Homo sapiens: one gene and its partners. The protein of the gene in region 4 interacts with the protein of the main gene of each other region in a biochemical or structural test. Each region holds a gene or a part of one and is shown on either strand. Other genes may lie near its edges.

What was found.
Region 1: of the proteins of USP10 (region 4) and MAVS, one has a biochemical effect on the other in vitro, tested with the Homo sapiens proteins (one study listed by BioGRID).
Region 2: the proteins of USP10 (region 4) and PRKAA2 form a complex in vitro, tested with the Homo sapiens proteins (one study listed by BioGRID).
Region 3: the proteins of USP10 (region 4) and SIRT6 form a complex in vitro, tested with the Homo sapiens proteins (one study listed by BioGRID).

Annotation. Positions count from the first base shown.
Region 1 is NC_000020.11:3,856,823-3,863,849, forward strand, and holds part of MAVS (mitochondrial antiviral-signaling protein), read left to right. Parts: intron 1-812; coding exon 813-987; intron 988-1,996; exon of another isoform or gene 1,997-2,120; intron 2,121-4,509; coding exon 4,510-4,682; intron 4,683-5,431; coding exon 5,432-5,591; intron 5,592-7,027.
Region 2 is NC_000001.11:56,648,308-56,655,334, reverse strand, and holds part of PRKAA2 (5'-AMP-activated protein kinase catalytic subunit alpha-2), read right to left. Parts: intron 1-7,027. UniProt on the Homo sapiens protein: Catalytic subunit of AMP-activated protein kinase (AMPK), an energy sensor protein kinase that plays a key role in regulating cellular energy metabolism.
Region 3 is NC_000019.10:4,173,590-4,179,571, reverse strand, and holds the end of SIRT6 (NAD-dependent protein deacylase sirtuin-6), read left to right. Parts: intron 1-285; coding exon 286-468; intron 469-2,433; coding exon 2,434-2,493; intron 2,494-3,634; coding exon 3,635-3,730; intron 3,731-3,811; coding exon 3,812-3,892; intron 3,893-4,420; coding exon 4,421-4,544; intron 4,545-4,625; coding exon 4,626-4,955; 3' UTR 4,956-5,463; downstream 5,464-5,982. UniProt on the Homo sapiens protein: NAD-dependent protein deacetylase, deacylase and mono-ADP-ribosyltransferase that plays an essential role in DNA damage repair, telomere maintenance, metabolic homeostasis, inflammation, tumorigenesis and aging.
Region 4 is NC_000016.10:84,695,576-84,702,999, reverse strand, and holds the start of USP10 (ubiquitin carboxyl-terminal hydrolase 10), read right to left. Parts: upstream 3,001-7,424; 5' UTR 2,925-3,000; coding exon of another isoform or gene 2,910-2,924; coding exon 2,889-2,909; intron 1-2,888. UniProt on the Homo sapiens protein: Hydrolase that can remove conjugated ubiquitin from target proteins such as p53/TP53, RPS2/us5, RPS3/us3, RPS10/eS10, BECN1, SNX3 and CFTR.

The DNA of each region.
Region 1 (7,027 bases), on a different chromosome or scaffold from region 4:
CAGGAGTTCGAGACCAGCCTGGCCAACATGGCGAAACCATGTCTCTACTAAAAATACAAAAAAATTAGCCGGGTGTGGTGGTGGGCTCCTGTAATCCCAGCTACTCGGGAGGCTGAGGCAGGAGAATCGCTTGAACTCAGGAGGCAGAGGTTGCAGTAAGCTGATATCACGGCACTGCACTCCAGCCTGGGCGACGGAGTGGGACTCCGTCTGAAAAAAAAAAAAAAAAAAGAAACAAAAAAACTCTGCAGCCACTGTCATCTGCCCACAATCTCCCCAGCATTCTCAGCTTCCTTGTTTGTTATTGTCGGCCCCCTCTCTTTCCGTCTTTTGCCCCTTTCATCATACTTTTGCTATCTACCTTTTCCTTCTCTCCTAATCCAAACCTTTCTTTTTGCCCTGGGGGCCATATTAATCCAAGGCTTTTGTATCAGATTAACTGGGTTTGGATTCCTGCCCCACTGTTTTAGGATCTTTGCTACAGTACTTTGCTTCTGCTAAGCCTCAGTTTCCTCATTAGTAAAGTGGAGATAATAATGGCATTAAATAAAGATGATACATGCAAAGCCCTTAATGGAGAGCCCAGGACATAGTTAATTGCCAGTTTCCGGCAGCTGCCTTTATTGATGTGGCTGCTAATTGCTCTTCCTCACTCCATACCTGGCCCTGTCCTGGGCTCCGATCCAGTTTCACGTGGCTGCCTTGCCCTTGTGGCTTTCTTGGCACCCCTCCCCCCGCTGTGGCTTCATTCTGGGTGGGGAAGTGGCAGGGGCCACCTGGCTTGAGCAGGACAGTGGCATTGTGTCTTCCAGGATCGACTGCGGGCCACCTGCACACTCTCAGGGAACCGGGACACCCTCTGGCATCTCTTCAATACCCTTCAGCGGCGGCCCGGCTGGGTGGAGTACTTCATTGCGGCACTGAGGGGCTGTGAGCTAGTTGATCTCGCGGACGAAGTGGCCTCTGTCTACCAGAGCTACCAGCCTCGTGAGCGTCCTGCCCTTGCCCTCCTGGACCCCCAGCCTGCTCCCTGGCCTCCGCTCTCCTTTTCTCTCTCCCTGTACTTCCTGCCTTTCTCTGTCATCCTCTTTCTTGTCACTGTGAAGCGATGAATAAACCTGGGTGTAGATCCAGGCTGAGCCACTTACCAGCTGTGTCCCTTTGGCCAAGTCCCTTAATTTCCCTGAGCCTCAGGCCTCTCTTCTGTAAAATGAAGCTCATGGCAGCATCTGCCGCGGGGAGCTGCAGTGGGTGATACTGCGGGACGATGCGTGTTGAGTATTGAGCTGGGCTGGGCACTTCCTGTATGCCCAGCACATGGAGTCTCCCCTAACTTTCACGGCTGTAGCATTCGCCTCCCACCCTTCCTCATTTCTTCTCCCCCACCTACTCATTCACCCTCCCTCTCTCCTCCTTCTCTTCCCCTCCCCTGGTTTACCCTGAGAGCCTTCGACGCCCTCTATCAGCTGCCCAGTTATTCTTTAAGTCCCTCTCAGTGTCCCTGCCACTCTGAGTGCTCGGAGGCGATTTGATGAGATTGAGTTTGATCCTGAGTGAGATCAAGACATGGGAGGAGGCTGGGCGCGGTGTTTCACACCTGTAATCCCAGCACTTTGGGAGGCCGAGGCAGGCGGATCATGAGGTCAGGAGATGGAGACCACCCTGGCTAAAACAGTGAAACCCCGTCTCTACTAAAAATACAGAAAATTAGCCGGGCATGTTGTCCCAGCTACTCAGGAGGCCGAGGCAGGAGAATCACTTGAACCAGGGAGGCAGAGGTTGCAGTGAGCTGAGATCGCGCCACTGCACTCCAGCCTGGGCGACAGAGTGGGATTCCATCTCAAAAAAAAAAAAAAAAAGACATGGGAAAAAAAATCAAGCCAGCCCTATTTATATTTCAAACTAGAGGTAACCCCCGAGACCCTGGTCACATTTATAGCTGTGGGACATCCATGTTTTTCTTTTCTTTCTCTCTCTTTTTTTTTTTTCCTTTTAGAGACAGAGTCTTGCTGCGCCACCCAGGCTGCAGTGCAGTGGTGCAATCATAGCTCACTGCAGCCTTGACCTCCTGGACTCAAGTGATCCTTCTACCTCAGCCTCCAGAGTAGCTGGGACTACAGGCATGGACAACTACACCTGGCTAATTTTTAAATTTTTTGTAGAGATGACATCTCACTATGTTGCCCAGGCTGGTCTCAAACTCCTGGGCTGAAGCGATCGGCCTCCCAGAGTGCTGGGATCATAGGTGTGAGCCACCGCGTCTGGCTCTCATGCTTGCTTTTCTCTCCTTTTTCCCTTCCTTGCTTTTCCTCCCTCCCTCCCTCCCTTCCTCTCTTCCTTCCTTTTTTTCCTTCCTTCTTTTTAAATATGTCTCTTCATGTGTGGAGATTAATAGTGATCCCTGGCTGGGCACGGTGGCTCACGCCTGTAATCCCAGCACTTTGGGAGGCCGAGGCGGGCGGATCACAAGGTCAGGAGTTCGAGACCAGCCTGGCCAATATGGTGAAACCCTGTCTGTACCAAAAATACAAAAAAATTAGCTGCGCATGGTGGTGCAAGCCTGTAATCCCAGCTACTTGGGAGGCTGAGGCAGGAGAATTGCTTGAACCGGGGAGGTGGAGGTTGCAGTGAGCCGAGATTGCGCCACTGCACTCCAGCCTGGATGACAGAGTGAGACTCCGTCTCCAAAAAAAAAAAACCCAAAAATAGTGATCCCCTGAATACAATGGCTGTGGTAGGGCCTGATGAGGGGTGGGGGCAAAGGGGAGGGGCTCAGGTGGCAGCATCAGGGCAGGGGTCAGTGAGCAATGATAGTCATGTGGAGGAGAAAGCCACTGGGTCCTAGGATGCCTGGGGACAGAGAAGAGTGACTGCTGACACGGCGTGGGTGACTAGAGACCCACGAGGCCCCCCCATACTCCCCTTCCTCCCTTGCTACCTTGTCCTCCATCTGCTCTCACCCTCCCACTCCTGCCCCCTTGCCAAGTGATGCTTGTCACTCCTTTTTTTTTTGAAATGGAGTTTCGCTCTGTCGCCCAGGCTGGAGTGCAGTGGTGCCATCTCAGCTCACTGCAAGCTCCGCCTCCCGGGTTCACGCCATTCTCCTGCCTCAGCCTCCCGAGTAGCTGGGACTACAGGCGCCTGCAACCATGCCCGGCTAACTTTTTGTATTTTTTAGTAGAGATGGGGTTTCACCGTGTTAGCCAGGATGGTCTCGATCTCCTGACCTCGTGATCCACCCGCCTCGGCCTCCCAAAGTGCTGGGATTACAGGCGTGAGCCACCAAGCCCAGCCCTGCTTGTCACTCTTGAGGAGTGGGCCCACATCAGAACAGCTTTTGGACCTATGGGTGGGGCGGGGGGTGTACCCAAGAGCACCCAAGCCTCTTTAATCATGAGGAGAACCCCCAATTCCTTTTTTTTTGAGACAGAGTCTTGCTCAGTCGCCCAGGCTGGAGTGCAGTGGCATGACTTCGGCTCACCACAACCTCTGCCTCCCGGGTTCAAGTGGTTCTCCTTCCTCAGCCTCCCTATAGTCCCTGATTCCTTCTATTTTTTTTTTTTTTTTTTGAGACGGAGTCTCGCTCTTGTTGCCCAGGCTGGAGTGCAATGGTGCAATCTCAGGTCATGGCAACCTTCACTTCCCAGGTTCAAGCAATTCTCCTGCCTCAGCCTCTCGAGTAGCTGGGATTACAGGCATGCGCCTCCACGCCTGGCTAATTTTGTTATTTTTAGTAGAGACAGGGTTTCTCCATGTTGGTCAGGCTGGTCTCGAACTCACGACCTCAGGTGATCCACCCACTTCGGCCTCCCAAAGTGCTGGGATTACAGGCGTGAGCCACCACGTCTGGCTTCTTTTTCTTTTTTTCCCCCGAGACGGAGTCTTGCTCTGTTGCCCAGGCTGGAGTGCAGTGGCGCGATCTCAGCTCACTGCAACCTCCGTCTCCCAGGTTCAAGCAATTCTTCTGCCTCAGCCTCCTGAGTAGCTGGGATTACAGGTGCTTGCCAGCACGCCTGGCTAATTTTTGTATTTTTAGTAGAGACGGGGTTTCACTATGTTGGCCAGGCTGGTCTTGAACTCCTGACCTCCTAATCCACCTGCCTTGGCCTCCCCAAATCCTGGGATTACAGGCATGAGCCATCGTGCCCAGCCCCTGATTCCTTCTTTTTTTTTCTTTCTTTTTTTTTTTAGACGGAGTCTCGCTCTGTCGCCCAGGCTGGAGTGCAGTGGCGCGATCTTGGCTTACTGCAAGCTCCGCCTCCCGGGTTCACGCCATTCTCCTGCCTCAGCCTCCTGAGTAGCTGGGACTACAGGGGCCCGCCACCATGCCCGGCTAATAATAATGTTGTATTTTTAGTAGAGATGGGGTTTCACTGTGTTAGCCAGGGTGGTCTCGATCTGACCTCGTGATCTGCCTGCCTTGGCCTCCCAAAGTGCTGAGATTACAGGCATGAGCCACTGTGCCCAGCCCTGATTCCTTCTTGATATCACTACATCTTTGTCCTCTAGGGACCTCGGACCGTCCCCCAGACCCACTGGAGCCACCGTCACTTCCTGCTGAGAGGCCAGGGCCCCCCACACCTGCTGCGGCCCACAGCATCCCCTACAACAGCTGCAGAGAGAAGGAGCCAAGTTACCCCATGCCTGTCCAGGAGACCCAGGCGCCAGAGTCCCCAGGAGAGGTCTGTCCTCATAGTCTACCTTGAGCCACCACTTTTGTGTTCCTATCTGCCCACTTCTGCCCATTGAGCCTTCCAGAAACCCTCTCCCGTCCCCTATAAATCACGCCTAATCTCTGCTCAGAACCCTAGGGCTTCCTCAGTGGGGATCTGCCCCAGACCAGCTTCCAGGCTGCTGACCAGGTCTTCACCCTGTGGCAGCCCTAATCCTCTGTCAGCAACCAGCTGGGAGACCACAGTTTTGTGTGTGTGTGTGTGTGTGTGTGTGACAGTGTCTCATTCTGTCACCCAGGCTGGAGTGCAGTGGAGTGATCTTGGCTCACTGCAACCTCTGCCTCCTGGGTTCAGGTCATTCTCCTGCCTCAGCCTCCTGAGTAGCTGGGATTACAGGCACCCACCACCACGCCCAGCTAATTTTTGTATTTTTAGTAGAGATGGGGTTTTGCCGTGTCAGCCAGGCTGGTCTCGAACTCCTGACCTCAGGTGATCTGCCCACCTTTGCCTCCCAAAGTGCTGGGATTACAGGCGTGAGCCACCGCACCTGGCAATGCTGTGTGTTTTCTGTGAGGTAGACGTAAGGACACCTGTGGACAGAGGGTCTGGGAATTACCAGAACCCAGGCAAGGGCTCCCCTGGCTCCTGTGCTCCATGGTGTGGGCTGAGGCCTATAGGAGATGCCCCAAGAGCACAAGCTGCCCTTTGTGAGCTCTTGGGAGAGGCAACTGCCTTATTCATATTTTCCCTCATTGCAGAATTCAGAGCAAGCCCTGCAGACGCTCAGCCCCAGAGCCATCCCAAGGAATCCAGATGGTGGCCCCCTGGAGTCCTCCTCTGACCTGGCAGCCCTCAGCCCTCTGACCTCCAGCGGGCATCAGGAGCAGGACACAGAACTGGGCAGTACCCACACAGCAGGTATGCATGGAATCTGGAATTATAGGGTCCTTCTGATCTCTCAAGTGAGGGTAAGAATTAGAGTTGCCCCATCTGGCTTCCTTGAACAGGAGACAAGGTGGGAATAAAGGGAGTTCAACCCAGGAAGCAAACCAGTTCCTTAGTGGGTGTATCAGTTAGCATTTGCTGTGTAACAAATAGTCCACTCCAGTTTTCCAAATTTTTTTTTTAGTAGCTTAAAATACAGCCATTTATTTAGCATATGATCCTGTGGGTCAGGCATTTGGGCTACCTACATGGGCATTTCTTCTGGTCTTGGCTGAATTTCCTCTCAAGTACTCACCGGTATATACATAAGTTCTGCCTCTGGCTGTTTGCTGAGCACCTTGGTTCTCTTCTATGTAGTCTCTCATCCTCCAGCACACAAACCCATCATGGCAGCTGGGCAGAGTTCTCAGAGAGGGCTCAAAACTGGCACAGTGTCCCCTGTGCTCCATTCTGTGGGCAAAAGCAAGTTATAAGGCCAGCCTAGATTCAAGGAGTAGGGAAATAGACTCCCTCCCTAGACGGGAGGACTGACAGGCACAGTGCAGTGGGGCTGGGTGGAGATGAGCGAGATAAGTAGGGCCATTTTTGCGCTCTGCCAAAGGGACTGTAGGGAACAGCCAGGGCCTATAGGGCAGTGGGAGAGGGACAGTGAAGGGCTGCATCAGCTGTTGGCAGGGGAACCTTTAGGCACTGTCTTACCGCAGAGATCTCCAGTTCCCAGTGAATCATGAAAACTTCTCAGTCCCCAGAGGAAGTAAGGTCTTCATCATCCAGTGGCCTGGACTCAACTCCAGATGTCAGTGCTCCCCCTCAGAAATATATAGTTGTCCATCTGGACCTCTCAGGCCAGCATGTCTCTTTCCTACTTCCCAAACTATTCCACATGACGCTGGTGCCCAGTCAGCCCTCAGTGCCCTGGGACAGCCACAAGACACATGAGCAGTTAGAGGCTGGGAGACGTCATCTTAGTACTTTTGTCATCCCCAAACTGCTCCAAGCACCTGTCTGCTTTGCAGTGTCACCTGGCCACGGGATGCCTTTCAGGAGTTGCTGTAGACCACAGAGGCAGAGGGCGCTTAGGTTTCAGTACGTTTGTAGACACAGGTCCCATGAGATTCTGTGGTATTAGATTGTGGTGGGGGAGCTGTACATCAGAATCACCCTGACTTTTGCCAGCTGTGGGGCTTGGCATGTGCATTCCGAGTTCCGTGGAGAGTCCTGCTGCAACTGCCTTTACAGACCATCACCACCTGCTATCCTCTGCTTCCCCCACCCAGGTCAGGCAGCCTCCCAGGGGTGGCTTTGTCCTTGTCCCCTCTCTTCCCAAGCCTCCGGGATGGCCAGGCCTCTCGGCTGGTGTGAGCTGTTCTGCATGAGCCATCCTGCCACCCCTTGCCCTGATCCATGGC
Region 2 (7,027 bases), on a different chromosome or scaffold from region 4:
GAGACTACCTGAACAATACAGTGAGACCCTGTCTCTACAAAAAAAAAAAAAAAATATATATATATAGATATATAAATACATACATTGTGAGAAACAGTAAAATGATTTTTTTAAAAAGAAAATGAAAATAACTTATACTTATCATATTGCCCAAGTAAAACAAGCATTTAGAAAAAAAAAAGTATGGTATATTTAAAAATGTTAGATCTATTGTTTTATGACAGTCAGTTTAACTTACCTTATAATTCATTTATAATTTAGAAACTGAGATGTTGAATAAGAACACACTGTTCTTGTTTTAATAGTATATATAATCTGAAGAAAAATGATTCTGAAAAAACAAAGTATATTAATAACATACTAACATTCAGAGTAAGAGACATATAGCAAGATTTTATAAATTATCTTTAATCATATAAAAGGCTGTTTAAAAAGATCTAATGGCAGATTAAAAAGAGAATTATGAATATTTTAAAAACAAAGGTACCACCCAAAGAAATACATAAAATTTATCAGAGGCAAACACTGCCAAACATAAGACACCACTTAAGCAAGAATACTGTTCCCTTGAAGGGGTGAAGAAGGCTTCTATTATTAGCAGAGATAACTGCCTGAAATTCTTTCCTTAATAACACCATACTAAAAATAAAAAGGTTCATCATATTTCAAAATAAACACATTGCTTTTCATACGCATTTCAATCACTTCAATAACAGATAAAAATAAAAGCCTGATTTAAGGTTTACATTTCTCTTATATTTGTAGTTGATAAATACACTAGGTAGATTTGCTCTCATTTTTATAACATATTTAATGCTTTAAGGGTCTTGTGCCAGCCACTTACTCATTATTTCTTAAAGGATTTGAGATTAGATCTTCCTGCTAGGTCAAATTAAATTATCTGCTTGGCTTCAAAAATTATTAATACTTCCTCTACAAAATATTTTCTCTATCATTTAGGAAACCACAGGAATCTCAGAAGAATAAATGGGGTGGTATTATTATTACAAAGCAGTACCAAATGCTTTCAAGAAAGCTAACATGGACCACAAGGTAAGTGGACATTTTGGGATGTTTTTACAAAAAGAAGCAAGATAAAGCATGGTTGTGTCAGCATGAAAAAGGGAGAAAGCTCATGGAACTGAGGTAATTACCTCAATATATGACCAAACTACAAAATCCTTTCTAATTTATATGGATATGTTAAGATAAAGTTTGGTAGAAAAGCATTTTTAGCTCAGAGTGTATTATCTGAACTGAAAATATATGTATAGCCTCATTTTGGTTCTACTACAAGTGGACCAGGACTTTAAAATGACCCATTCATACTAAATGCCATCTGCTGCCCACACTTTCCCCCTTCCCAGCTTATGCCTCTTTCCTCCAAGAGTTTCTATGATGGATACCATGGGATCTGGAATACATACATACATATATATGTATGTATACAAAATATATATAATGTGTTTGTGCCTTCCAAGTGATGCACAGAAGATGGTGAAAAGTGAGCAGCTTCTAGAGAATTACAGGTTTCTGAACACATTCATTTGCAGAAATAAGACCAGAGTAAAACAAGACAGGAGGTAGTGAATTCTTCCCTCTCTCTCATCAATAAATTTCTGGTCTCAGAACCAGATCACAGATTATTCTCATAGTTCAGCTAATTGTGGGTTTAAGTACATAATGGTGTCTACATACACAAAAGTACATAAGTACTTCTGAGTGCTTTTTCATCTATGTACATTTTCTCATGTACTTCTCACAACACTAGAAGAGAACATATGGTATTATTCCCATTTTTACAGATTGAGTTTGACCACATAGCTGGTTTATGACAAAACAAAGGTTCCACACCAGGTCTTCTAAGTTCAACATACTACAGAGAGTATTTATACTACATCAGGCTGCCTTTGTGGACATACTATGAAAATAGCTACCATTTATAACATTGTTTCCTATTTAAAATACCCTTTGAAAGTCAATCAACTGGCTACACCAAATGAACAAAATCCATTCAGATATTAAGGACACAATTCAAAAATCATATAAATTATATATATATTATATATATCTATATATATCAGCAAGAGAAACCTAAATAGCACGTATTTACCTAATTGTGAGAATAATTCAACTGATTTTAATTCAATCACTAATCTAGTATTTGAGAAGAAACATAATTTCATTATTTGGAACCAATATTTAACACTTGTTTAGAATTTGCATAATTTCAAAAGTAAAATCAATTTACTGTGAATGTGTGTACATTCACTTTTATTTAACTATTACTTCCATTTCATTCTTGTTTCATTCATCTTCCATATTTGGGAAAAAGCAAATTACATGACTTAGTCATACAGGATATTGTTTTTAATATAAACATTAATAAGTATCATAAAGCACAGATAAAGTAGTCATTAAGAGCTTTCTTCAACCTAGGCAACCACAAAATAGGGGCAGATTACTACAGCTCTATCTCAATGTTGGTGTGAGAACTGAAGGCATTTCAATGGAAAGTAAGTACTTTCTAACACAGGGTGCAGAATTTACCTACAATTGCCATGCATCTCACCATCTCCACAAGTGTCATCTATCTGTATAGCATTTTATCTTTTCCAAAGCCATTTTATATACCTCAACTCATTTGATCTTCATAACTATTCCAGAAGGTAGGCAGGACAAGTATGATCATTGCCATATTACGAAGGAGGAAACAAAGGCTCAGCATCTAATGGTTTTTCCCAAAGGTGAGACAACTGGTAGTAGAAATGGAATTAATTCCAGAGCTAATACCTTCTTATACCAATGTTTTCTTCTAGAACATCAAATCATTTGTACAAGTTCTCTTTAGTCTGGTTACTAAAGGTTACTGGCAATCACTAGTCAAGATTACCTTTATAGCCTGTAATCCCAGCACTTTGGGAGGCCGAGGCAGGTGGATCACAAGGTCAAGAGAGCAAGACCATCCTGGCTAACACGGTGAAACCCTGTCTCTACCAAAAATACAGAAAATTAGCCGGGTGAGGCCGGGCGCAATAGCTCACGCCTTTACTCCCAGCACTTTGGGAAGCTGAGGCGGGCGTATTACGAGGTCAGGAGATCGAGACCATCCTGGCCAACATGGTGAAACCCCATCTCTACTACAATACAAAAAATTAGCAGGGCGTGGTGGTGCACGCCTGTAGTCCCAGCTAGTCGGGAGGCCGAGGCAGTGGAATCGCTTGAACCCAGGAGGCAGAGGTTGTAGTGAGCCGAGATCGCGCCACTGCACTCCAGACTGGTGACAGAGCAAGATTCTGTCTCCAAAAAAAAAAAAAAAAAAAAAATTAGCCAGGCGTGGTGGCAGGCGCCTGTAGTCTCAGCTACTGGGGAGGCTGAGGCAAGAGAATGGCGTGAACCCAGGAGGCGGAGCTTGCAGTGAGCTGAGATAGCACCACTGCACTCCAGCCTGGGCGACAGAGCCAGACTAGTCTCAAAAAAAAAAAAAAGATTACTTTCATATCAGTAAACACACTGAAATCACTAGTATTTCTAATAAACATGGGTTAAAACTGGTAGAATTCAGCACATTTTATAATAAGAAATGAAAGATTGAGGCATCCAAGTAAATGTTGGAAAAGTAAAAATATAAATTTTAATCATCTATATATGGCATTTCAAAAAACGTTATTTATCTCTAAATATGGACTGAAAGACATTTAAATCTTATTTTCTCAATTCTGATAAATATGAGCAGACATAGAAAATTATATCCTTGTAGGTTTGAAACTCAGAACATACTAGGCATTTTGACTTTACAGTCCATAGAGCAGAGACTTTGCAGTCTGAGAACCCTGAATTTGATTGCTAGCTCTACCACTTAATAGCACTGGAACTTTGGACAAGTTACTTAAAGTATCTGATTCTCAATTTCTTCATTTGTTAAATGGAGATAATACCAAACTTAGAGGATTACTCTGGGAATAAAAAAAAATCAAGTGCATATATCATACAGTGATTAGAATATAGTAACAACTTAATCAAATTGTACCTTTTATCACTGAAGTATTGAAAATATGTTTCCTTTTCCCCTGTTCTACATTACATCTACATTTCAGACTCAGGAACTCAAATTTTCATTAACCAGGATGAATAATTAAATATACCCATTTTTTTGGAGTTAAATCTTTTAAAAATCGGTTTAATGATAGCATTGTAAAGGACCTCACAGATTCGCTACTCCAGTGTTATCCTTTAGGAGGGGAAGAAAACAAGGCCCAGGGAGTTAAATTGTTCAGGGCTTCCACACTAGCACACAAGTCAAGCAAGGGACCAAAATACCACAGACATAACTTTTAGCTCCATCAATTGATGGGACAGTTGTGTGAAATTTGATTTATCATTTAGGACTTGATATTTACATTTCAAAATAAGGTAACACTTTTTGTTTGTTTGTTTAAGTTTTGGTTTATCCTTCCTGTTATCTCAAAAACAAGTGGGGAATTAGTAAAATATTTACTTAATTTATTGAAAGCAGTCTGTAGGCCAGTCATGTAACTATTTGAAAAATGGAAAGGGTAACTTCTTCGTGAGACTTTGCCGACAAGAAAGAACCTAAGTATCCCTTGGTGTACAATTCCAATGAAGAATATTTATTTCATAAACCACATATGGGTAAACATATTTCTGGAGTAAAATGTTGAAAAAAATTTGTTTAAATCATAAACCACATATATACTACTACTCATCTTGAAAATGCAGGCTTCTTTTTAAATAAATAATTAGCACTATAATTTTGTTTCTTCAATCAGTCTTTATATAACACAAACAACAGGACCATTCTTCTAGAATTTCTATCACCTTTAGAGAAGTTAGATAAGAAATGAACAAGTCTAATTACAAGAACTCTCTAACAGTTTTACCCTACCCAGAGTGAGAGCCTAAACAGTCAATATAGAGAAAAATTTTAAATAGATAAAAAGCATTACTTTTAAACTCTGTCAGCCCATATAATCTGTTTCCAAAAACAGTCCCTCAGCAACCTGATAATACAATAGACTAATGAAGGACAAAATTTAAAACATTTTAAATAAGGCTTTATTAACAAATACAAAGATTTCCATATACTTTTAAAAAACAAATTAAAACTACTGCTGTTAAAACTATTCCATTTTCAATTTTTGCTTTTTGTCCCTAACTTTGGTCCATAAATTGATATATCAACAACTGAAGTTAAAATTTCTTTATTTCTTTTTTTTTTTAAGACGGAGTCTCGCTCTGTCACCCAGGCTGGAGTGCAGTGGCACAATCTCGGCCCACTGCAACTTCCGCCTCCCGGGTCCAAGTGATTCTCCTGCCTCAGCTTCCCAAGTAGCTGGGATTACAGGCGCGCACCATCACAGCTGGCTAATTTTTGTATTTTTAGTAGAGATGAGGTTTCACCATGTTAGCCAGGTTGTTCTCAAACTCCTGACCTCAAGTGATCCACCTACCTCGGCCTCCCAAAGTGCTGGGATTACAGGCGTGAGCCGCCGTGCCTGGCCTAAAATTTCTAAATCTATAATTAGCATAACAGTCAAAGTTGGGCATGGTGGGACACATTTGTAATCCCAACACTGTGAGGCTGAGGCAGATAGACTGCTTAAGGCCACAAGTTTGAGAACAGCCTGGTCAACATAGTCCCTAAAAAAAACTAATTAATAAACAAATAAGAAAAAGGAAAAAAGTCAAGAGAGAAAGCACATAAAATGTTCCTTACTTCTCCATTTCCATGTTTTTATAACCATTTATCTAACTATCTATCTATCTATCTATCTTTCTATCAATCAATCAATCAATCAAAGACAGGGTCTCCCTATGCTGCCCAGGCTGGTCTTGAACCCCTGGGCTCAAGGGATCCTCCTGCCTTGGTCACCCAAAGTGCTAGGATTACAGGCATGGACCACCACACCTGGCCAAGCTTTTAAAATTACATCATCTCCTATTAGCTTTTTTAGTAGAAATTCATTTTGCAATGTCTAAAATCTACAACAATTAAAAATGCACCTGCATTCAACAAAAACTGCTGAGACAATTGGTTATCCACATGGAAAAAGTTAACCTTACAACCTCATCTCACACCATACATAAGAATTAACTCAAAATAGATCACATAGTTAAACATCAGGGCTAAAATAATAAAATATTTACAAGAAAACATAAAAGAAAATCTTTGAGACTTGGGCTAGGCAAAGATTTCTTGCCTATGACATCAAGAGCATAGTCCATAAAATAATTTTAAAAACTAATAAATTGGACCTCATGAAAATTCAAAACTTTTATACTTCAAAAGACACAAGAAAATGAAAAGACACAACAGACTGGAAGAAAATATTTGCAAAATATATCCATTAAAGGATCTGTATCCACAATTTACAAAGAATCCTCACAACTCAACTTATAAGATGACAAGTAACCCAATTAGAAAATAAGCAAGAGATATAAACAGACATTCCATCAATGAAAATACATAAATGACTAGTAATTACGTGAGACAATGTTCAACATCATTAGTCCTTAGGGAAACGCAAAATTAATGCCTCAATGAGATACTATTTCGCACCCACTAGAATGGCTATAATAAATCAGGCAGACAATAACAAATGTTGGCAAAGATACTCAGAAAAGGGAACTTTCATACATCTTTGATGGGAATGTTATAAAATGGTGTGACCATTTTGGGAAAGTGTTGCAGTTTCTCAAAAAGTAAAACATAAAACTACGATATGACCCAGCAATTCTACTTCTAGTTATTTACCCAAGGTGTATGAAAACATATGTCCACACAAAGACTTACATGTGAATATTCGTAGTGCCATTATTTATAATAGCCCAAAACTTGAAACCATGACCATCAACTGGTTTTGTATAGACAAAATGTGGCATATCCACACAATGGAATATTATTCAACTATAAAAAGGAACAAATTAATGGCACATGCTATGTCATGCATGAATCTCAAAAGCATTGTTAAAGAAGCTCGACACAAAAGATGACATATTGAACGAT
Region 3 (5,982 bases), on a different chromosome or scaffold from region 4:
TCTCTCTCTGCCTCTCCCTCTCTCTGTCTCTCTCCAATTCTGTCTCTGACTTGCTTTGTCTTTAACTCTTTATCTCTCTGTCTGTGTCTTGTTCTATCCCCCTCTCCCTGTTCTTGCAACTCACCCTCTATTTCTGTTTCTGATTCCCTCTCTCTGTCTCCCTGTCTCTCTCTGTCTCCTGATTTTCTCTCTCTCCAACTTTCTCTCTATACCTCTCTGATTCTCCCTCTGTCTCTTTTTCTGTTCCCCTCTCCCCGTCCATCTCTCCCGGCCTGCCACCTTCAGGGGTCCCCACGGAGTCTGGACCATGGAGGAGCGAGGTCTGGCCCCCAAGTTCGACACCACCTTTGAGAGCGCGCGGCCCACGCAGACCCACATGGCGCTGGTGCAGCTGGAGCGCGTGGGCCTCCTCCGCTTCCTGGTCAGCCAGAACGTGGACGGGCTCCATGTGCGCTCAGGCTTCCCCAGGTAACACCCTGGCCCCGCCCCCACAAAAGAGCTTGGGGCCCCACAAACCGTGTTTGCATTTTTAGGGGGAGAGTCCCCTTTTCCTGGTTCTATAAGATTCTAGCCCTGAGTTCTTGGCCCAGTGTGTGGAGATCTCTGAGTCCCATGGCTCAGAGCTGTCCCGGCTGAGGCCAGAGGCAGAATTTCCCTCGAGATGGGGCTAAGGGGAGGAGAGCTGTCAGGGTCTAGAAGTTGCAGTTTGTTTTTTGTTGTTGTTGTTGTTTTTGAGACCGAGTTTCGTTCTTGTTGCCCAGGCTGGAGTGCAATGGCGTGATCTCCGCTCAGCCTCCCAGGTTCAAGCGATTCTCCTGCCTCAGCCTCCCTAGTAACTGGGATTACAGGCATGCGCCATCACACCCAGCTAATTTTGTATTTTTAGTAGAGACGGGGTTTCTCCATGTTGGCCAGGCTGGTCTTGAACTCCTGACCTCAGGTGATCTGCCCGCCTCAGCCTCCCAAAGTGCTGGGGTTACAGGTGTGAGCCACCACGCTTGGCCTGTTGTGTTTTTAATATCCATCTTTATTAATCTGACACTAAACGTGTCTGACACTGAAGTGAACCTGTGCTCTGGGGCAGGCTGATTTCCCAATAAAAGTGTGGCCCTCCCCTGCCCCTCTTTGCCAGGTCTCACCCCTGGGGCAACCAATGACAGCCAGGTCAGTTGTTGAGACGAGGAGCTCGGCAGCCAGGGGTGAGGGGTGAGGAAGAGATTTTTCTCTGCTTATAAAAGCAAACGAGGGGCCGGGCATGGTGGCTCACATCTGTAATCCCAGCACTTTGGGAGGCCGAGGCAGGCGGATCACGAGGTCAAGAGTTCGAGACCAGCCTGGCCAACATGTTGAAACCCCATCTCTACTAAGAGTACAAAAATTAGCTGGGCGTGGTGGCGCATGCCTGTAATCCCAGCTACTCGGGAGGCTGAGTCAGGAGAATCGCTTGAACCCGGGAGGCAGAGGTTGCAGTGAGCCGAGATGGCGCCACTGCACTCCAGCTTGGGTGACAGAGCAAGACTCTGTCTTGAAAAAAAAAAAAGCAAAGGAGGGTCAGGTGTGGTGACTTATGCCTGGAATCTCAGCACTTTGGGAGGCCAAGGCGGGCGGATCATGAGGTCAGGAGATCGAGACCATCCCGGCCACATGGTAAAACCCCGTCTCTACTAAAAACAGAAAAATTAGGCTGGGTACAGTGGCTCACGCCTGTAATCCCGGCACTTTGGGAGGCCGAGGCGGGTGGATCACAAGCTCAGGAGATCGAGACCATCCTGGCTAACACGGTGAAACCCTGTCTCTACTAAAAATACAAAAAATTAGCCCGGCGTGGTGGCGGGCGCCTGTAGTCCCAGCTACTCAGGAGGCTGAGGCAGGAGAATCACTTGAACCCCGGAGGCAGAGGTTGTGGTGAGCTGAGATTGTGCCATTGAGGTTGTGGTGAGCTGAGATTGCACCATTGCACTCCAACCTGGGCAACAAGAGCAAAACTCTGTCTCAAAATAAATAAATAAATAAAATAAAGCTGGGATTGGATCTCATGCTTCAGGGCCATTCAATGTCTCGGTTTCTTCCATTATAAACTGGGAATTTGAATTCCTGTGCTTCTGACCTGGTGACATCAAGAGGTTCCCATATGCTCTCGGAGGGGGACGGGCATTTTGTGAGTGGAAAGGGCTTCCCGTTATCTAAGGTGGGTTCAGCCTTGGGGGTTAATGATTCCTTGGGCTCAGAGAGGTTGGTCCACTTGCCCAGAGATGCACAGCAGATGAATGGTGGAGCCAGGAGCTAGAAGAGCCAGAAAGAAGGAGTTGATCAATGTTGTGGGAGAGGAGTCCGGGAAGCCTTCCTGGAGGAGAGGGGCTTAGCACCAGCTCCAAAGCCTGGGCATCCAGGGATCCTTTCCCACCATCAAGCCTCTTCCTGCTCTTCCCACAGGGACAAACTGGCAGAGCTCCACGGGAACATGTTTGTGGAAGAATGTGCCAAGTGTAAGACGTGAGTGCCACCTGGGTGCAGGGGTGGGGGCTCTGCCAGAGGGGGTTGGGGGTCGAATCCGATGTCCCAGAGACCCAGAGGGTATGGGGGGACTGGGGTGTGGCCCTCCTGGGGGGATCTGGGGGCGTGTCTCCCTCTTGGGGGGATATAAGGAGTATGTCTCCCTCCTGGAGGGATTTGGGGGGCATGTCTTCCTCCTGGAGGGATTTGGGGGGGCCGTGCCTCCCTCCTGTGGGGGGTACATCCGTGTCCTGGCACTGCTGTAGCAACCTGCCACAGATGAGCAGCGTAGAACAATAGAAATTTGTGATCTCACAGTTCTGGGGACCAGAAGTCCAAAATCCAGGTGTCTGCAGGGCCATGCCCCTCTGCAACCTGTAGGGGAGGATTTTTCCTGCCTTTTCCTGGCTGCTGGTGGCAGCCAGCCACCCTTGGTGGTCCTGGACCTACAGCCACAGGGGCCTTCTTATCTCTGTGTTTCTCCTTTTTTTTGAGACAGTCCCGCTCTGTCATCCAGGCTGGAGTACAGTGGGGCAATCTCGGCTCACTGCAACCTCCGCCTCCCGGGTTCAGGCAATTATTCTGCCTCAGCCATCCAAGTAGCTGCAACTGCAGGCGCCCGCCACCACACCTGGCTAATATTTGTATTTTTAGTAGAGACGGGGTTTCACCATATTGGCCAGGCTGGTGTCGAACTCCTGACCTTGTGATCTGCCCGCCTCAGCCTCCCAAAGTGCTGGGATGACAGGCGTGAGCCACCACGCCCGGCCCAGTATAACGATTAAAGTCAGGAAAAGTAAAGTGGACATCGCCTTCTCTAATCCCGAATCCAGACTCGGCCTGTCGCCCCCATGCTCCAATTGTTCCTGTTTCTCCTGGTCCGGGATCCCATGCTGGGTCTTGTCTCTCGAGCCCCTTCGTCTGTCTGGGACAGTTTCCTGCTTTGTTTTCTGTGCTCCGGGCACCGAGCAGCATCCCAGCCCGTTATTCATGGAAGGCTACTCGTTCCGTGTCGCTGGGTGCTAGTTCTGGTCACCTGTCCACCCCCCACCTCCCTGGGAGAACGTCACCCTAGAAACAGTGCGAGAGTCACCCATGGGAGCTCACCTGGTCCCATCCTCCCCCTTCCTCCCTGACACAGGCAGTACGTCCGAGACACAGTCGTGGGCACCATGGGCCTGAAGGCCACGGGCCGGCTCTGCACCGTGGCTAAGGCAAGGGGGCTGCGAGCCTGCAGGTGAGCCACCCCCACCCATGCCCTGGGCTCCAGGGGAGGCTGCGAGGCCCCTGAGGACTCTCCTCAGCTTCCTCATTGCAGGGGAGAGCTGAGGGACACCATCCTAGACTGGGAGGACTCCCTGCCCGACCGGGACCTGGCACTCGCCGATGAGGCCAGCAGGTCTGACCCCCCACCCCCAGGGAGCCCATGGTGGGGCGGGGCGGGACGACAGCAGAAACACAGCCAGCTCCAGCATGGGACAGTGGCTGAGGCTCACAGGCAGTGAGGGGAGGCTTCCTGGAGCAGGTGGGCCAGGCCAGGGGCTGCACACACGCACTCACACACACTCGTCACCTCATGGCTCTGGGTGGGTGCTACACAAGGAAACCAAGGCTTCCGCCAGGTGTCTCCTCTATCCAGTGCTGCCCAGCCGGGAGGTGACCGAGCCAGGGTCCCACCCTAGGTGTCCAAGCTCTTACCACACTGTGATACTCCCCGGAAGTGTCTAAGGGCCCGCCCAGATCAATGACCCCGCCAACGGACCGCAGAGGAGGGCAGGGCGGGATCCCAAAGGCTGACTCGGGAGTGGGGCTGGCCTTGACCGCCCCGGTGAGCACAGATGGCCTAGGTGTGAACCGGCCCCCAGGGCTGGCTCGGGATGTTGGCAGGAGCAGGGCATCAGGCTCAGCCCACGCTCCCCGGCCCCAGGAACGCCGACCTGTCCATCACGCTGGGTACATCGCTGCAGATCCGGCCCAGCGGGAACCTGCCGCTGGCTACCAAGCGCCGGGGAGGCCGCCTGGTCATCGTCAACCTGCAGCCCACCAAGCACGTAGGTGTCTGAGCCTACCCCTGCCCAGGGCCACCATGCACCCTCTGTCCCCCACGCCTGACCCGTCCCGCCCCTCGGCAGGACCGCCATGCTGACCTCCGCATCCATGGCTACGTTGACGAGGTCATGACCCGGCTCATGAAGCACCTGGGGCTGGAGATCCCCGCCTGGGACGGCCCCCGTGTGCTGGAGAGGGCGCTGCCACCCCTGCCCCGCCCGCCCACCCCCAAGCTGGAGCCCAAGGAGGAATCTCCCACCCGGATCAACGGCTCTATCCCCGCCGGCCCCAAGCAGGAGCCCTGCGCCCAGCACAACGGCTCAGAGCCCGCCAGCCCCAAACGGGAGCGGCCCACCAGCCCTGCCCCCCACAGACCCCCCAAAAGGGTGAAGGCCAAGGCGGTCCCCAGCTGACCAGGGTGCTTGGGGAGGGTGGGGCTTTTTGTAGAAACTGTGGATTCTTTTTCTCTCGTGGTCTCACTTTGTTACTTGTTTCTGTCCCCGGGAGCCTCAGGGCTCTGAGAGCTGTGCTCCAGGCCAGGGGTTACACCTGCCCTCCGTGGTCCCTCCCTGGGCTCCAGGGGCCTCTGGTGCGGTTCCGGGAAGAAGCCACACCCCAGAGGTGACAGGTGAGCCCCTGCCACACCCCAGCCTCTGACTTGCTGTGTTGTCCAGAGGTGAGGCTGGGCCCTCCCTGGTCTCCAGCTTAAACAGGAGTGAACTCCCTCTGTCCCCAGGGCCTCCCTTCTGGGCCCCCTACAGCCCACCCTACCCCTCCTCCATGGGCCCTGCAGGAGGGGAGACCCACCTTGAAGTGGGGGATCAGTAGAGGCTTGCACTGCCTTTGGGGCTGGAGGGAGACGTGGGTCCACCAGGCTTCTGGAAAAGTCCTCAATGCAATAAAAACAATTTCTTTCTTGCATCTCAGTGTGTTTACTTTATTTTATTGAGCCAGAGTCTCACTCTGTCACCAAGGCTGGAATGCAGTGGCGTGATCTCAGCTCACTGCAGCCTCTGCCTCCTAGGTTCAAGCAATTCTCCTGCCTCAGCCTCCAGAGTAGCTGGGATTATAGGTGTGTGCCACCACACCCAGCTAATTGTTTGCATTTTTTGTAGAGATGGGGGTCTCACTATGTGACTCAGGCTGGTCTCAAACTCCTGGGCTCAAGCAGTCAGGCCACCTTGGCCTCCCAAAGTGCTGGACTTAACGGGCGTGAGCCACTGTGCCCAGTGAGTGTTTAAATTCCCTATTTGTGGCAGGTCCTCGCCCCCCTGGGTCAGGAGTTCGTGGTCCCCTCCTCCCTGGACCAGCTGCTTGGGCTCCGTTGCAATCCCTGCCCCTCAAGCCTGGGGGCCGAGGAACAAGGGCTCACCTCTCCCCCCACCCCGCCTCTGGAGGGATCAGGCCAGTTTTCTGATGATGAAGCCAATAAGGCAGCTG
Region 4 (7,424 bases):
TTTTTTGAGACGGGAGTCTTGCTCTGTCGCCCAGGCTGGAGTGCAGTGGCATGATCTCGGCTCACTGCAACCTCCGCCTCCCGGGTTCAAGCGATTCTCCTGCCTCAGCCTCCCAAGTACCTGGGACTACAGGCGAGCTTCACCACACTCGGCTAATTTTTGTATTTTTAGTAGAGACAGGGTCTCACTATATTGGTCAGGCTGATCTCGAACCCCTGACCTCAAGTGATCCACCCACCTGCGCCTCCCAAAGTGCTGGGATTACAGGCACGAGCCACCGCGCTGGCCTGTAAACATTTTTAAACTGTAACTTTTTCCACCTCCCATTATTCTCAGTGACAAATTTAACTTTAACAAGTCAATTTTAAAATAAGACCTTCAATTTGCAGTTGTTATTCCCAACATAAACAAGTAATATACATACCATGACGCTTAATATCTGATAAACAATCAGTATTTGCTGAATGAATGAATGGCCATTAAGGCTGCAAGACTCTTAGGACAGTAGGCAACCAAGTAAAACAAATTTATTAAAACGCTCAGAATGACTGGAGCAGGAACCAGTAACTAAATCCTGTCATACATGATTCCATTACTTGTTTGCATTACTATTCTTTTAAAATGAAAATTATGAGAAATCGGCCAGGCGCAGTAGTGGCTCACGCCTATAATCCCAGCACTTTGAGAGGCCGAGGCGGGTGGATCACCTGAGCTCAGGAGTTTGAGACCAGCCTGATCAACATGGTGAAACCCGTCTTTAATAAAAATACAAAAAATTAGCCAGGCATGGTGGTGGGCGCCTGTAATCCCAGCTACTTGGGAGGCTGAGGCAGGAGAATCGCTTGAACCCGGGAGGCAGAGGTTGCAGTGGGCCGAGATCATGCCACTGCACTCCAGCCTGGGCGACAGAGCAAGACTCCCGTCTCAAAAAAAAAAAAAAAAAAAAAAAAAAAAGAGCGAAACTCCATCTCAAAATAAATAAAAAAGTTTATAGGTTAATAACCACAGCACTCCAGCCTGGGCAACAAGAGCCAAATTCCAACTCAAAAAAAAAAAAAAAAAGAAGAAGAAAATTATGAGAAATCAAACTATTTCCTTTGCTACTTTCTCCATGCTAAAACTTAAAAGCATTTAAATCATACTTTAAAAGAATAAACCCAAAGTGTTGCTAACATTTACGTTCCGCCAACTTTTGCTACTCCAATTTTCTAAAGATGTGTATAACGCTTTAGACTGTTGTATAAAACGTAAATACTGGGACAATGAATGCAAACGAAATTACAATTAAGTTTACATATTATCCATCCCCATTAATTAACATTTCAATCAACCTTGAATTGTGATTGATGCTTATTAAATAAAGGAAGTGAGCTATGCCTAAAGATGCTTTCTTCATGTCAAAATCACAAGGAATATTACACATTAATTCATAATGAGCCTTTTACTTGTTCATACCAATTCTAATAAGCTAGTTAATTAGGATTTAAGTTGAGAAAAAAGCAAATATCAAATCTTTTTTTTTAACAGAAAGGTCTAAACAAAGCTAAATACACCAAATCTCTTAAAATCTTTGGGCTATACATTTGTAAAAATTATTCAACTACTGATCCCTTTTTTGGCGCAAAGACCTACACTACTTACAAAAGTAAATGAATAAGGGAACAAAACGTTAAAGGGGGAAATTCTGATGCAAACTAAACTACAGCTAATTTAACAAAATTGAAGCTTGTCGTAAGATCTAATTTTTTAAAAAGTTTTCGCATTTTAGATTCCACAACACGCATTCATTACAATAGTTCCGAAAATCATGTTTCAAAAGAGGTGTAGTCAGATTGACTTCATCTGCAGAAGGGCAACAAAACCCAATTGCTCATGAAGGGTTATGATTTTACTCGCAATCAGTTTCCCGAATGGCTACTTTGTTTCATTTCCCCATATTTAATACAAATACACAATGAGATGGTTTAAAAGTGTGCAACAATTTATAGGGACCAGATGTCAACAAATTAGCAGTCTAAAGCAAGGCTGACAAATAATACATCATGCCGATTTTTGTCCAGAATAATTATAATGGCGGAGGGGGGAGAAGATGTGAGAGAAGGGGTGGGAGAGGGGAATAAGAGCTTAACTCTACACGCACATCTCCCAAAAAGAGCTCTTTCTTTCCACCACGGGATTATTGTAAAGGGCCCCCAAGCTTTAGCTACTGTTCAGGCAGGGTGCGTTAGTTGTCAGCCTGGCTGGGATGGATTCGTGCAAGGGATGTCACTCAAACGCAAGTGAAAGTACGGTCCTTGCGACTTATTTCGAGTTTTCTTTGCAACAGCAGCCCAAGGCCGCTACTCTGCTACTTCTATCTAAAAAACAGAAAATCGGCAACCCCCGCATCATCAATCAAGCTGAGAAAGGAAGCTCTTGGGGCAAAGGGGCAACAGGGCACCCCCAAATCTCTGAGGCTCGCTCCAGGCAGAGGCAGCAACCTGAGCTGCTCTGGGGCCCCTGCGCTCCAGGGGACTCCCGGAGCCCCCGGGCCGCCTCCCCCGGCCGGCGCGGCGGGGAGGGCCCCACTCCACACCCCGGGCTCGCCCCGCGGTCCAGCCCCAGGGAGGTTAACCCCTTCGGCGCCCTCCACGCCCTCCCCAAGCGGGGCCCGGAGCCCCCGCCCTTCGACCTCCCCGGGACTAGGGGGTCCGGGTGGCTCAGGGGACGAAGGCGCGGCGGGCGCGGAGGCGGCGGGTGGCTCCGGCCTAGGCCCGGGCAGCGTGTCCCAGCGCCCTCCCCCACTCCCACACGCTCGCTCCGGGCAGGGCGCGGACGCCCGCCCGCCGCGGCGTCCGCCCGCCCGGGGCTCGGGCCCCTTCCGGCCGAAGGCGCAGACCGGCGGCTACCTGCGGGCTGTGGAGGGCCATGGCTGCCCGTTTCATTGGGACTCCGCGATCCTCCGGCTGCTCACGCTGCTTCCCCCGCCGCCGCCATCTTCTCGCCCGCACATACACACTCGCATCGGCCGCCGCGCCTGCGCACTGGCCGCGCGCCGCGGGGCGCGGGGAGGCCGGCCCGCTGCTGCGCCTGCGCGGCCGACAGGTGGGCGTGCGCCTGCCGGGCCGCGGACATCCCCTGCCCCGCCTGGAGCCTGCCGGACTCTGAGCCCCGCGACCCTCGGGCGGAAGCGGCCGGGCGGCTGCACACCAGGAGCCCGCCGAGGCCTGGCTGTGGATCCGGAAGGGGAGAGGGCAGGCAGGTAGAGGTGGCAACGCCAAGGCGCCGGCGGGCCCGGCTCCTCACCTACTGGGGGCCACCTGGGCCCCCGGAGCCCGGGAGTCGCGGGCTGAGGTCGGCCTGGGGCCCACGAGCCGCCCTCAGCGTACCTGGGCCCGGGCCTCGGGAGTGTTCGCATTAGATCCCCGAGGAGGGTCTGGTTTATGAAGATCCCGTTGCCGCGCATTCATTCATTTGTTCACTCTTCATTCACTCCCCAAGTCCTGCCTGGGCGCCTGGGCCACGCCTTTGGCTAGGCATTAGGGGAAAAAAGCAAAACAGACAAAAACAAAACGTAGGGCATAAAAGCACGCGTAAAGTGCTTGACATGAGGCCTGGCAAGTAGCAAACACTCAGCAAGTGCTACGTGTTGCACACGTGCGTGCGTGTGCACGGGCAAACCAGCCTTGGGGGTCGTTGGTTCATTCATTATTAAGAAACAGGGGCCCCTGCCTAACTGCACTGTTTTCCAGCCAGTGGGTCCACCCTTGGGTTTTGGCCCCTTTTCTAGCTGTGATTTCAGACAAGCGACTTTCCTTCCCTAAGCCTTGGTTTCCTCACCTGTGAATAAGACAAATATGTCATAACGCGTAAGATTTCTGTGAGGTTCAAATTAGATTAACGTGAGCACACTGGCCAAGAGAATAGTCAATAAAAATTGGCTACTGGGATTGTTATTAATAACCATTACTATTGGTTTCATTTATTCAACAAACACCTACAGAGAGTCTGCTCTTGCTAGACCGTACACTGAGCAGAGGAGATGAACAGGAAGATCCATTCCCACGTTACATAAAATAGGGAGCCTGGTCTCTTCATAAATGGGATGCCATGAAAAATATAAGTGGGCCAGGCGCAGCGGCTCACACCCGGAATCCCACACATTGGGAGGCCGAGGCGGGCGGATCACTTGAAGTCAGGAGTTGGAGACCAGCCTGGCTAATATGATGAAACCCCAACTCTACTAAAAATACAAAAATTGGTGGGATGTAGTGTGGCACACCAGGCGTCCCAGCTACTCAGGAGGCTGAGGTGGGAGGATCACTTGAACCCCGGAGACGGAGGTTGCGGTGAGCCGAGATCGTGCCACTGCACTCCAGCCTGGGTGACAGAGCGAGTCTCTGTCTCAAAAAAAAAAAAAGAAAGAAAGAAAGAAAGAAAAGAAAAGAAAAATATAAGTGGTAGGGAGGGGTTGTTCCAAAATAGAAGAGCTAGAAAACATAACCAAATACAATGTGTCATCTTGCTTGGATCCTGATATGTCTTTTAAGCTGGTTTTACTATTTGTTGACAATTGGAGACATTTGAATATGGATTGGATATGGGTGATCTTCGTGAATTATTGGTAATTTTATAGTGTAATAATTATACTGTGCTCACTGAGAGAATGTCCTTATTGTGAGGAGATGCATTCTGAAGAGTTGAGGAGTGAAGGCCATAATGCCTGTAAACTATTGTTTAATGGTTCAACAAAAGATAAAATCATGTACACACATAAACATTCAGGGAGAGACAGCAAATATGGCAAAATGTTTACTATTGTTGGCTCTAAGTAGTGCTATATATTTCAGCTTTTCTCTATGTTTGAAAATTTTTATAACAAAAAATTGGGGAAAACAATACAATATAGTGTCTGTGCTATAATTTTAACCATGGAAAAGCGATATCTGCACTTGGATAGAAACTGGGGGACGTGAAAACTCACTAGTGATTTATGGTTGTCTCTCTGGCTCGGTGCGGTGGCTCACACCTGTAATCTCAGCACTTTGGAAGGCTGAGGTGGGTGGATCACCTGAGGTCGGGAGTTCAAGACCAGCCTGATCAACATGGTGAAGCCCCGTCTCTACTAAAAATACAAAAATTAGTCGGGCGTGGTGGCAGGCGCCTGTAATCCCAGCTACTCAGGAGGCTGAGGCAGAAGAATCGCTTGAACCCGGGAGGCAGAGGTTGCAGTGAGCCGAGATGGCACCATTGCACTCCAGCCTGGACAACAAGAGTGAAACTCTGTCTCAAAAAAAAAAAAAAAAAAAAACATATATATATATATATATATATATATATATATATATATATATATATAGTTGTTTGTCTGATTTTTATCATACAGTTGCTTGAACAACAAATAAAAGTGATAATAAACAAAAGATCCCAGGCCAGGCACGGTGGCTCACGCCTGTAATCCCAGCACTTTGGGAGGCTGAGGCGGGTGGATCACCTGAGGTCAAAAGTTCGAGACTAGCCTGGCCAACATGGTGAAACCCCGTCTCTACTAAAAATACAAAAATTAGCTGGGCATGGTGGCGGGCACCTGTAATCCCAGCTACCTGGGGGGCCTAGGCAGGAAAATTGCTTGAACCCGGGAGGCGGAGGTTGCAGTGAGCTGAGATCACACCATCTCACTCCAGCCTGGGGGACAAAAGTGAGACTTTGTCTCACAAATAAATAAATATATAAATAAATAAATAAAAAAGATCCCAGTCTTCATTTTCAAATAATTCACATAGATATGAACACATACCTTCAGTACAAGGAAATAGATGTTAAAAGGAAGCTATGAACAAGCACTATGGCCTTCAGTGCTTAGCAGAGCCTGGTGATATACTTCGGCTGTGTCCCCACCCAAATCTCATCTTGGATTGTAATAATCCCCACGTGTCAAGAGTGGGGCCACGTGGTGATAATTGAATCATTGGCGTGGTTTTCCCCATACTGTTCTCATGGTAGTGAGTAAGTCTCACAAGATCTAATGTTTGTGTGTGTGTGTGTGTGTGTGTGTGTGTGTGTGGTTTTTTTGGTTTGTTTGGTTGTTTTTTTGTTTTTGTTTTTGTTTTTGTTTTTGAGACAGTCTTGCTCTGTCGCCCAGGCTGGAGTGCAGTGGCAGGATCTCAGCTCACCGTAACCTCCGCCTTCTGGGTTCAAGTGATTCTCCTGCCTCAGCTTCTGGAGTAGCTGGGACTACAGGCATGTGACACCACGCCCGGCTAATTTTCGTATTTTTAGTAGAGATGGGGTTTCACCATGATGGCCAGGCTGGTCTTGAACTCCTGACCTCAAGTGATCTGCCCACGTCAGCCTCCCAAAGTGCTGGGAATACAGGCGTGAGCCACCACGCCCAGCCTCTAATGGTTTTACAAATGAGAGTTCCCCTGCACAAGCTCTCTTGCCTGCCGCCATGTTAAGCGTGACTTTGCTCCTCATTTGCCTTCCGCCATGATTGTGAGGCCTCCCTTGCCATGTGGAACTGTGAGTCAATTAAACCTCTTTGCTTTATAAATTACCTAGCTTGGGTATGTATGTCTTTATTAGCAGCATGACAACCGACTAATACACCTGGTATCTCCCATGAGTCTGGGGACAGTGGCCTAGGCCTGGAGTCAAGACAGGCCCAAGTTCAAATCTGGAATCCCCCACTCACTAGCTGTGTGAACCTGGGCAAGTTACCTACATTTTCTGTGAATCTTTTGTAGAAGGTGGTGTGATGGGCAGAATAATGCCCCTCCCCTCAAAGATGTCCATGCCCCAACCTCAGAACCTGTGGATATATTACTTTACATGGTAAAAGGAACATTGCAAATGTGGTAATGTTAAAGGCTTTGAGATGGATTATCCTGGGAAATAACCTAATTATGACATGACTGGTGGGTCCCAAGTAATCACAAGGGTCCTTATGAGGGAAAGAAGGAGGGGCAAGAGAGTCAGGTCACAAGGAGATGTGAAAATAGAAGCAGAAAGAGAGAGGGAGAGATTTGAAGATGCTGCGCTGCTGGTGCCACGAGCCAAGGAATGTGGGTGGCCTCTAGGAGCTGGAAAAGGGCAAACATTTTCTGCTAGTGCTGCCAGAAGGAACATAGCCTTGCTTACAGCTTGATTTAGCCCCGTGAGTCTTCTGAGCTACAGAACTTTAAAACAAAAAACTTGTGTTGATTTAAGCCGGTAAATTTTGTTCCAGCAACAATAGGAAACTATGACAGGGGAAGCAACACTACCTGTTCTATAAGCCTGTTGCTAGGAGGAGATGAAGTAATGGAGCTAGCACATGGAGTGTGCTGCCTGGTGCTTTTATTTTTTTATTTTTTTGAGACGGAATTTCACTTTGTCGCCCAGGCTGGAGTACAGTGGCATGATCTCAGCTCGCTGCAACCTCCGCCTCCAGGGTTCAAACGATT